3 separate regions of the Homo sapiens genome follow, and all the other regions are linked to region 2. The links come from fine-mapping of genetic effects on gene expression. A gene starts in region 2. Each other region holds a variant in brackets. All regions are shown on one strand. Distances are between the middles of the regions.

Region 1 (2,764 bases), 37 kb after region 2:
CAGATATGCCAAAGTCACCCTTCAAAAGACGACGGTAAATATTTCTTTTTCTCAAATAAGCAAAACTACTTTTTTTTAGTTGGTTGCTTATAAAAATGAGCACAGTTTGAAAACCATTTGTCTTGGGCTCCCTTAAGTAAATGTTTTAGTTGTCGGTTCCTCTTTTCAGTCCAATCATCACAGTTATCACAGTGAGGCATTTTTCTAAAACACAAATTTAATTTTTACTTATTTTTTAAAAACCTGTGCCCTAACTGCCTGCAGGATAAAAGATCAAACCCCTTAGTGTGGTTTACATTAATAATCAGGTCAACTGTACCTCTTCTAGATGTATCTGTGTTTAGTCTTCTCCGGCCATACCGAATTCACTTTCCAAACCATAGTCTATCATAACTCTTTGCTTTTGCACTATTTTTTTTTTTTTTTTTTTTTTGAGATAGGGTCTCACTCTGTTGCCCAGAGCTAGAGTGCAGTGGTACAATCATAGCTCACTGTATTCTTGAACTTCTGGTCTCAGGAGAGCCTCCCAAGTAACTGTGGCTATAGGTGTGTACCACCATGCCCATCTGATTAAAAAAATTGTTTTGTGTATTTTATTTTTGTAGAGATGGGGTCTCACCATATTGCCCAGGTTGGCTTTGAACTCCTGGCCTCAAATGATCCTCCTGCCTCAGCCTCCCAAAGTGCTGGGGTTACCGTCCCACAGCAAACTTAATACATTTTCAAAACTTAGCTTGAGCTGGGCACAGTGGCATATGCCTTTAGTCCTAGCTACCTGGTAGGCTGAAGTAGGAGGATCAGTTGAGCCCAGGACTCCACGACAAGATCCTGACTCAAACCCAAACCAAAACCAAACAAAACTTAACTTGGACGTCACCTCCTTTGTGAAGTTTTTCTTTCCTTCCTTAGGTAATTAATTGTTCCCTACAATGTTCTGTTCATTAAAGTTTTGTTTACATGTTTTTATTTTCTACTAACATTTGAGGTGTGCTTTGGGAAGACAGGGACTATTTTATTCATCTTTGTCCTCATGACATATACTAGGTAACCAGTATTTGCTACATGAAACCAATAATGTTCTATAGGACCGAGCCTCAGTAATTCATATTGTGCTAACATGTTTTGTGTTTCAGACTTTGAAGACAAATGTAGATTAACTCACTCTCTAGTACTTTGAAAAATCTAATTTAATGAGACTGAAAATGATCTATACCTGCTTAGACTACGAAAATAGCAATTCAAAATAAGTGCCCAGAAGTGA[G/A]TTTTAATGGACTAATCTAAACCTTAACTTAAGGCTCATAGGAGAATGATACTTGAGCTAAGTATGGAATAATCTTAGGTACTTGAAATGTATGAAAATACTTTGAAAACATTATGTACGATGCAGGGTGGTGGCATGGTAAAAACCCAGGAGTCATTTGAAAGTTCTGCACATTGCTAGATTATAGCAGTTTTTGTTGCAGGATGATGACGAATCTTGAAATCTTATTAAATTGTTAAATACTATATACATTTTTTGTTCTGTAATCTTTCCTCAAAAAATGACCATCATTTGTTTCCTGATTTTTATAAACTTAAGAAAAAAGTAATAGGAAAGAGTAAAAAGAGGGCAGGTGCAGTGGCTCACACCTGTAATCCCAGAACTTTGGGAGGCTGAGGCAGGCAGATTGCTTGAGTCCAGGAGTTCAAGACCAGCCTGGGCAACATGACAAAACCCTGTCTCTAGTAAAAATACAAAAATTAGTGTGGTGGCACGCTCCTGTAATCCTAGTTACTGAGGTGGTTGAGGCATGAGAATCGCTTGAACTCAGGAGGCCGAGGTCGCAGTGAGCTGAGATGGTGCTTCTGCACTCCAGCCTGGACGACAGAGTAAGACTCATCTCAAAAAGAAAAAAAAAAAGAAGAGTAGAAAGAAGGCAGGCTGGGCATGGTGGCTCACACCTGTAATCCCAGCACTTTGGGAGGCCAAGGCAGGCGGATCACCTGAGGTCAGGAGTTCGAGACCATCCTGGTCAACATGGTGAAACCCCATCTCTACTAAAAATACAAAAATTAGCTGGGCATGGTGGCAGCCGCCTGTTATCCCAGCTACTCGGGAGGCTGAGGCAGGAGAATTGCTTGAACCTGGGAGGCGAAGGTTGCAGTGAGCCGAGATTGTGCCACTCCACTCAAGCCTGGGGGACAAGAGCAAGACTTCATCTCCAAAAAAAAAAAAAAGGTAGCCACCATTTAGGCATATTAACCTTTCAAATTATATATAGCCATAAATAATCTTTTTACAAAATCCATTCTTTGTGTGATGTTTACTTTAAAACTTGGGAATTTTTACTGTATGGTTGTATCAAGATTTATTTAACCAATTCTTGGTTTTTGTTTTTGTTTTTTCTTTGAGACAGGGTCTTACTCTGTCACCTAGGCTGGAGTGCAGTGGCATGATCAGGGCTCACTGTAGCCCATCTCCCAGGCTCAAGTGATCCTCCCACCTCAGCCCCACCAAGTATCTGGGACTACAGGTGCCTGCCACCATGCCTGGCTAGTTGTTTTTTGTTGTTGTTGTTGTTGTTTTTGAGACAGAGTCTTGCTCTGTCACCCAGGCTGGAGTGCGGTGGTGCGATCTCGGCTCACTGCAAGCCCCTCCTCCCGGGTTCACACCATTCTCCTGCTTCAGCCTCCCAAGTAGCTGGGACTACAGCCTCCCGCTATGATGCCCGGCTAATTTTTTTTTTTATTTTTAGTAGAGATGGGGTTTCAACGTGTTAGCCAG
Region 2 (2,764 bases):
CAGTATTTTTCATTTGGAAGTCCAATAGGGCAAATTGAATGAAGTATTATTATCTGTCTCTTGTAGTACAATGTATCCAACAGACACTCAATAAACTTTTTGGTTGTTAAACTGACTTCATTGCAGTAGTGTTTAGGTAATACTTCTCCAGAAACTAGTGAAATCAAACCACAGTAATTTTATCTGCTGAGTATATATCATTGTAATCAATTACTTCCAAATGTCTTTATCAATAAACAAATATACTAAAAGAATTCTAGGTAACCATGAGTTACTTAGGGCACCATGAGTGCATCTGTAGACCCAGCTACTCATTCCTTGAGCCCAGGAGTTGGAGGCCAGCCTGGTCAACAGAGCGAGACCTTGTCTCTTTTTTTTAAGAGTCAGGGTCTAGATCTGTCACCCAGGCCAGAGTGCAGTGGTGCGACCACTCCTCCCACCTTAGCCTCACGAGTACCTGGGACTACAGGCGCGTGTCACGACACCCAGATAATTTAAAAAATACTTTTGTAGGGACAGAGGCTCACTATGTTACCAACGCTGATCTGGAACTCCTGGCCTCATGCAATCCTCCCGCCTCGGCCTCCCAAAGCTCTGGGATTACCGGCCTGAGACACCGAGCCCCGCCCCGCCCGTCTCTAAATAAATACTTAAAAGAACCCCAGGTAAAAGCTAAAGCGAGGATGAAATTCTAAATGAATTTCTGAGCAACAACTATCCGTAGTGAGCAGTGATGATTTTTGGTGTGTTCTCCGGTAGGCACACTTTTCAAATTTATGCAATCTTATCCTTAAGATTTGAAAAAAAAAAACTTATAAAAAATCTTAAACGTGGTTTTCCATCTACAATTTTTCGCAACTGTAGGGATATATTCAAAATAAATGCTGGACATTTCCAGGCATTAGAGGGGATGTGGCCGGATGGCGAGGAGGGGCCGTCCTCACCAGGACTCCAAGCAGTTCTCGCACCTGACTTCGTAGGCCTGTAGTTGTAACCATAGCAATGCCCCAGATGCTTGAAAACATTTCTGAATTGCGGCCCTATCATATTTTTACAGCAAAACCACCCTTATTTTACATATTACTAAATCCTCTTTTCACCTTCATTTCATCCCTCGTCAAAGTTAAAAGGATGAAGATTCTTTTATCTCACAAAGGTTATGAGAGAAATATTAAATTTAAAATCACTGTGGAGACCACCTCCTCCGTGTAAAATGAGGAAGGGTCACAGGAAGATGATAATGGGAACGCGCCGCCAGACTCTGAAAGCCATTAACATTGTTTCGGCCGTTAGGGCGGTTGGCGGCAACTCACCGCCCAGCGGCGGTTGCGTCGCAGCCAGAAGCGTGACTTCGCGCACGCTCCCTTTCCACTCCTCCACTCAGAGCCGGGGACGCGGCGGGGGCGCGGCGGAACTACAGCTCCCATGACGCTTTGCGCGGCATAGGGTGCTTTACAATAGAAGCTCGGTTGGAGAGGCCTGCGGAGAAAAGCTGGGAACGGCCGCTTCCGGCATGTTCATCTCTGGACGAAGAACGGCCGACAAGTGGAGGGCGGAGGAGAGACTCCAATGCCCAGCGGGCAGTGCGCGGGCGGCGCTTGCGCGATGCGCGGACGGGGGGGCGGTCGGGCCATTTAAATGTGTGTTTGTGGGTGAAATGGCTGCGCAGGTCGGAGCGGTGCGCGTAGTACGGGCGGTGGCGGCGCAGGAGGAGCCGGACAAAGAGGGGAAGGAGAAACCTCATGCTGGGGTCTCCCCGCGGGGAGTTAAACGGCAGCGCCGATCTAGCAGTGGGGGGTCTCAGGAGAAGCGGGGGCGGCCGAGCCAGGAGCCCCCTCTCGCTCCCCCTCACCGGCGGCGTCGCAGCCGCCAACATCCTGGGCCGCTGCCGCCAACGAATGCAGCCCCAACTGTCCCAGGCCCTGTTGAGCCTCTTCTCCTGCCGCCTCCGCCGCCACCTTCGCTGGCACCCGCCGGGCCCGCTGTCGCTGCCCCTCTCCCGGCCCCAAGCACCTCGGCCCTCTTCACCTTCTCGCCTCTGACGGTGAGCGCGGCCGGGCCCAAGCATAAGGGCCACAAGGAGCGGCACAAGCACCATCACCACCGCGGCCCCGATGGTGATCCCAGCTCCTGCGGAACCGATCTCAAGCACAAGGACAAGCAGGAAAACGGCGAGAGGACTGGAGGGGTGCCTCTGATCAAAGCCCCCAAGAGAGGTGAGAGCAGGCAAACTGCCCGGCTTGGGTTCTAGGTCTCTCTCAGTTCCGATATCCCGCATCTTTAGGACTGAAAGACGCCAAACCCCTGCTTACCTTCTGCTGCTGTACTTCTCTAAGCTCACTGGGGTGGACCCTGGATTTCAGATCGTTGACACGGTTTGATCTAACTACTTGAGGCTTCTCGCTCCGAGGCCGAGCTGTCAGTTGCTAATCCCTTTACCGGTCCCCCGGAGCCTCTCAGCATTTGTTTTCAAATTCTGCAAGGTTTCCGCGCCGCGTTAGATTAGTAGGTGGGGTACTAAAAAATGCCTTTCCAAAGAAAAGGCATGTTCCTAAAATCCCTTCTCCTTGTTTTGCTTGCTGGAGAGCTTTAGTTATCTGCTCTCCCTTGCTCCAGAATAGTCAGGGGTATGGTTCCAGTCTTTCAGGAGGGAATTCATATAAAGGTTACACGACTCACTGGTTGACTTAGCTTCTGCAAGGTAAAATATCAGACGCAGTTTATCTTGGTTCTTTTTAATCTAGAGGTAAAAATCATTTTAAAG
Region 3 (2,764 bases), 32 kb after region 2:
TAAAGGATTTAAAATGGGAAGGTTGAATGATAAGATGTTTTTTCCTAGATTATTTGTAGCAGTATGTAGGATGGCTCTTGGGGATAGGAATCCTGAAGCAAGGATACTGGTTAAGAGGTTTTACAATTAGGTGAGAAATGATAATTTCCTGAATTAAGGCAGTGGTACTGCAGATTTAGTTAGAAGGATAGATTTTGATTTAAGTGATGAGGAAGAGGGATTTATCAATTCCTGATTTAGGACCTGAGAAAATGAATATTATTAACCGGCGAAGTACATACAGAAGGAGAAAAAGAAGGTTTGGGAGGGGAAGGGAACCTTACAAAAAAACGAGCTCTGTTTTGTAGGTATTAAATTTGAGGGTGTCTGTGGGCTGCCCAGGAGGCATTTGTATGTTAAGATCTGAATCTGAGGCAGAGTTTTAAGTTAGAGATGTAGATATGGAATGTAGTAGGGTACAGGTGGTAGTTAAATCTGTAGTATAATTGAAACCACCCACAGATAATATGTGGAATGAAAACTGGGCCAACTCTGCAACAACCACGTTTTGGAGAGGAGGAAGCCTGGAAAGGGAAATCAAGAAAGCAGGTGATTGCAAAGCATTCCTTGAATTTGGTTGTGAAGAGGTCATCAGTGATTTGTTTCAGGGGAGTGGTATGGGCAGAAGCCTGATTGCAATGATATGAGATGTGAATAAAAGGTGAGGTGAGGCAATAGAGACAGGTACTACAGACTAGTATTACAGAAGTAGGATTCTTATGTGAAAAAGGTATATATATCTTGGTGCTTTTGATGGCAAGTTGCAGGATAGTCAATTTTAAAATGGGCTTAAATGATGAAAGAGATTTATTGGCCTATGGAATGGAAAAGTCCAGAGGTGGGATGGATAGTTTGAATGTTTCAGGCCTGGGGTTTGCAGGCAGGGCTGGTGGAAGGACTGGGATAGAGGATGAGAGTGTGTTTATGAGAGAGGGATAAACCTTGAGGTTTAGACTAGATATGGAAGCAGCTGAAAGAAGGAGGGGACTGATACTGAGAAAAAAACGTAGGTCACAGAAAGCTAGAGGTCTAATTTCATGTAAGTAAAGGAATGAAAACAGGA[A/C]GGTTGTGGTTTACTAATAAGGGCTTTCTCTAGCTAGGCTAAGTTAGCTACAGTTATCCAAATAGGCTTTATACATTGCAGCTTTCAAAATCCAGTCCTAGTATTTTGTAGCATAGTTGTTTACTTGATGGCTCTTCTGCCAGGAAATAAAAATTGAACATTGTTAATTCTTTGTCACTCATGGATACAACATTGGTACTCACACAAAGGTGTGAACCTGAAGATCCTCGTAAGATGAGAAGCTTTTCTTTGTGTATATATGAAAATAAACATGTTGGTCTTGGCGAAATTATGAGGTCGCTATATTTTGTGGTCATACCCTTTCTTTGTCTTCTGTTGCTCCCGCCTTCCTCTTTTTTAGGTTTACTTTTTATTCTCTTTGCAAATAGGAAAAGATGCTTCATATTTATTCATGTCACATGTTGATTATTCTAGGTGTTTACCTTTCTAAGTTGTCTTCAAGTTCAGTGCTGTTGAGTTTAGTGGTGTTTGAATTAGGTAAACTTGGAGTGGTGTGATATAAGAATATTAATTCAGTCTCACTTTGTGTGTAAAATTTAAAGTAGTATGAATTCCTTCAAATTAATAATGCATTGAGTTGTATAATCTCAGGCCAAGTAAATTGAAAACTGCCACATGGCAGTGTACTTCTTTAGGATTGGTCTTGAGTTTTGGCTGCTTTAAATTAGGATAGGTCTTAAGAGTCACTTCTGGCTGGGAAAAAGATTTTAAAAAGATCATGATAGGTCTTTAGGACATTTGTCCCATAAAATGCCTGTATAGAGAGAAAGCCTTTCTTAGTAAAGGAATTTCTGAGACTGGGAATAGTTGGGAGAGGTGTTTGGGGGAGACTGATATTTCTTTTTTTTTTTTTGAGACGGAGTCTTGCCCTGTCGCCCAGGCTGGAGTGCAGTGGCACGATCTTGGCTCACTGCAAACTCCGCCTCCCATGTTCAAGCAGTTCTCTGCCTCAGCCTCCCGAGTATCTGGGACTACAGGCATGCACCACCGTGCCTGGCTAATTTTTGTATTTTTAGTAGAGACGGGATTTCACCATCTCGGCCAGGCTGGTCTTGAGCTCCTGACATCATGATACACCTGCTTTGGCCTCCCAAAGTGCTGGGATTACAGGCATGCACCACCGTGCCTGGCCGAGACTGATAATTTCTTATTACCCCTAAAAGCATATGATTCCTAGAAATGTTGCTGAAGGTTAAATCTACTTTAGTTGTTTTAGAGTGCTTAGAAAGGTTAGAATAATGATTTAAAAAGACTTACCTTTCTTCCCCTTCCTTATCTCTATATCCCATGATGAGCCTTTGTTCCATGCTGCCACCCCTGGCTTTTTATGGCATGATGATCATACCAAACTTATGGAAAGTAATTCATATGAATATATATAAAGTAATTCTGGCCTGGGTGGCTGCTGCTTAAGAATCATCTAAAGTGATCTTGGGGGGAGGATTTGTAAGGAATTAAAAAATCCCTACCCCTGCTATTTGAGAACAAGATCTACAGCCTTTTTTTCTGTGTATATATGTGTGGGTGATGTTAAATTGTCTATGGAAAAAAATTGATTCTAAAAATGCTGCTAAAGAACAAATGGTGAAGAATTGTGGTAAGATATCCTAGATGGTCATTTATGTAGACTGTTTCCTATTA

The links. PIP is the estimated chance that this variant, and not a neighbour inherited with it, causes the effect.
Region 1: its variant is fine-mapped to the expression of RSBN1 in whole blood (TOPMed, PIP 0.90).
Region 3: its variant is fine-mapped to the expression of RSBN1 in whole blood (INTERVAL, PIP above 0.99).

Annotation. Positions count from the first base shown.
Region 1 is chr1:113,774,480-113,777,243 of GRCh38, reverse strand. RSBN1 (round spermatid basic protein 1) reads left to right here. Exons shown (of 7, transcript NM_018364.5): 4 at 1-34. Among named protein-coding and RNA genes, the nearest start is that of PHTF1, 16 kb to the right of the region's middle. The variant G/A (reference allele first, on the strand shown) is at 1,262.
Region 2 is chr1:113,811,162-113,813,925 of GRCh38, reverse strand. RSBN1 (round spermatid basic protein 1) reads left to right here and starts at 1,450. Exons shown (of 7, transcript NM_018364.5): 1 at 1,450-2,216. The coding sequence starts at 1,514. It overlaps PTPN22 (protein tyrosine phosphatase non-receptor type 22), which reads left to right. Exons shown (of 21, transcript NM_015967.8): 21 at 1-115. AP4B1-AS1 (AP4B1 antisense RNA 1) reads right to left here and starts at 1,314. Exons shown (of 5, transcript NR_125965.1): 1 at 1,101-1,314. RefSeq lists enhancers at 1,050-1,579, 1,316-1,705, 1,580-2,109, 2,086-2,175, 2,326-2,385 and 1 more.
Region 3 is chr1:113,779,232-113,781,995 of GRCh38, reverse strand. All of the region lies in intron 2 of RSBN1 (round spermatid basic protein 1), which reads left to right. Among named protein-coding and RNA genes, the nearest start is that of PHTF1, 21 kb to the right of the region's middle. RefSeq lists a silencer at 1,016-1,125 and an enhancer at 1,236-1,285. The variant A/C (reference allele first, on the strand shown) is at 1,103.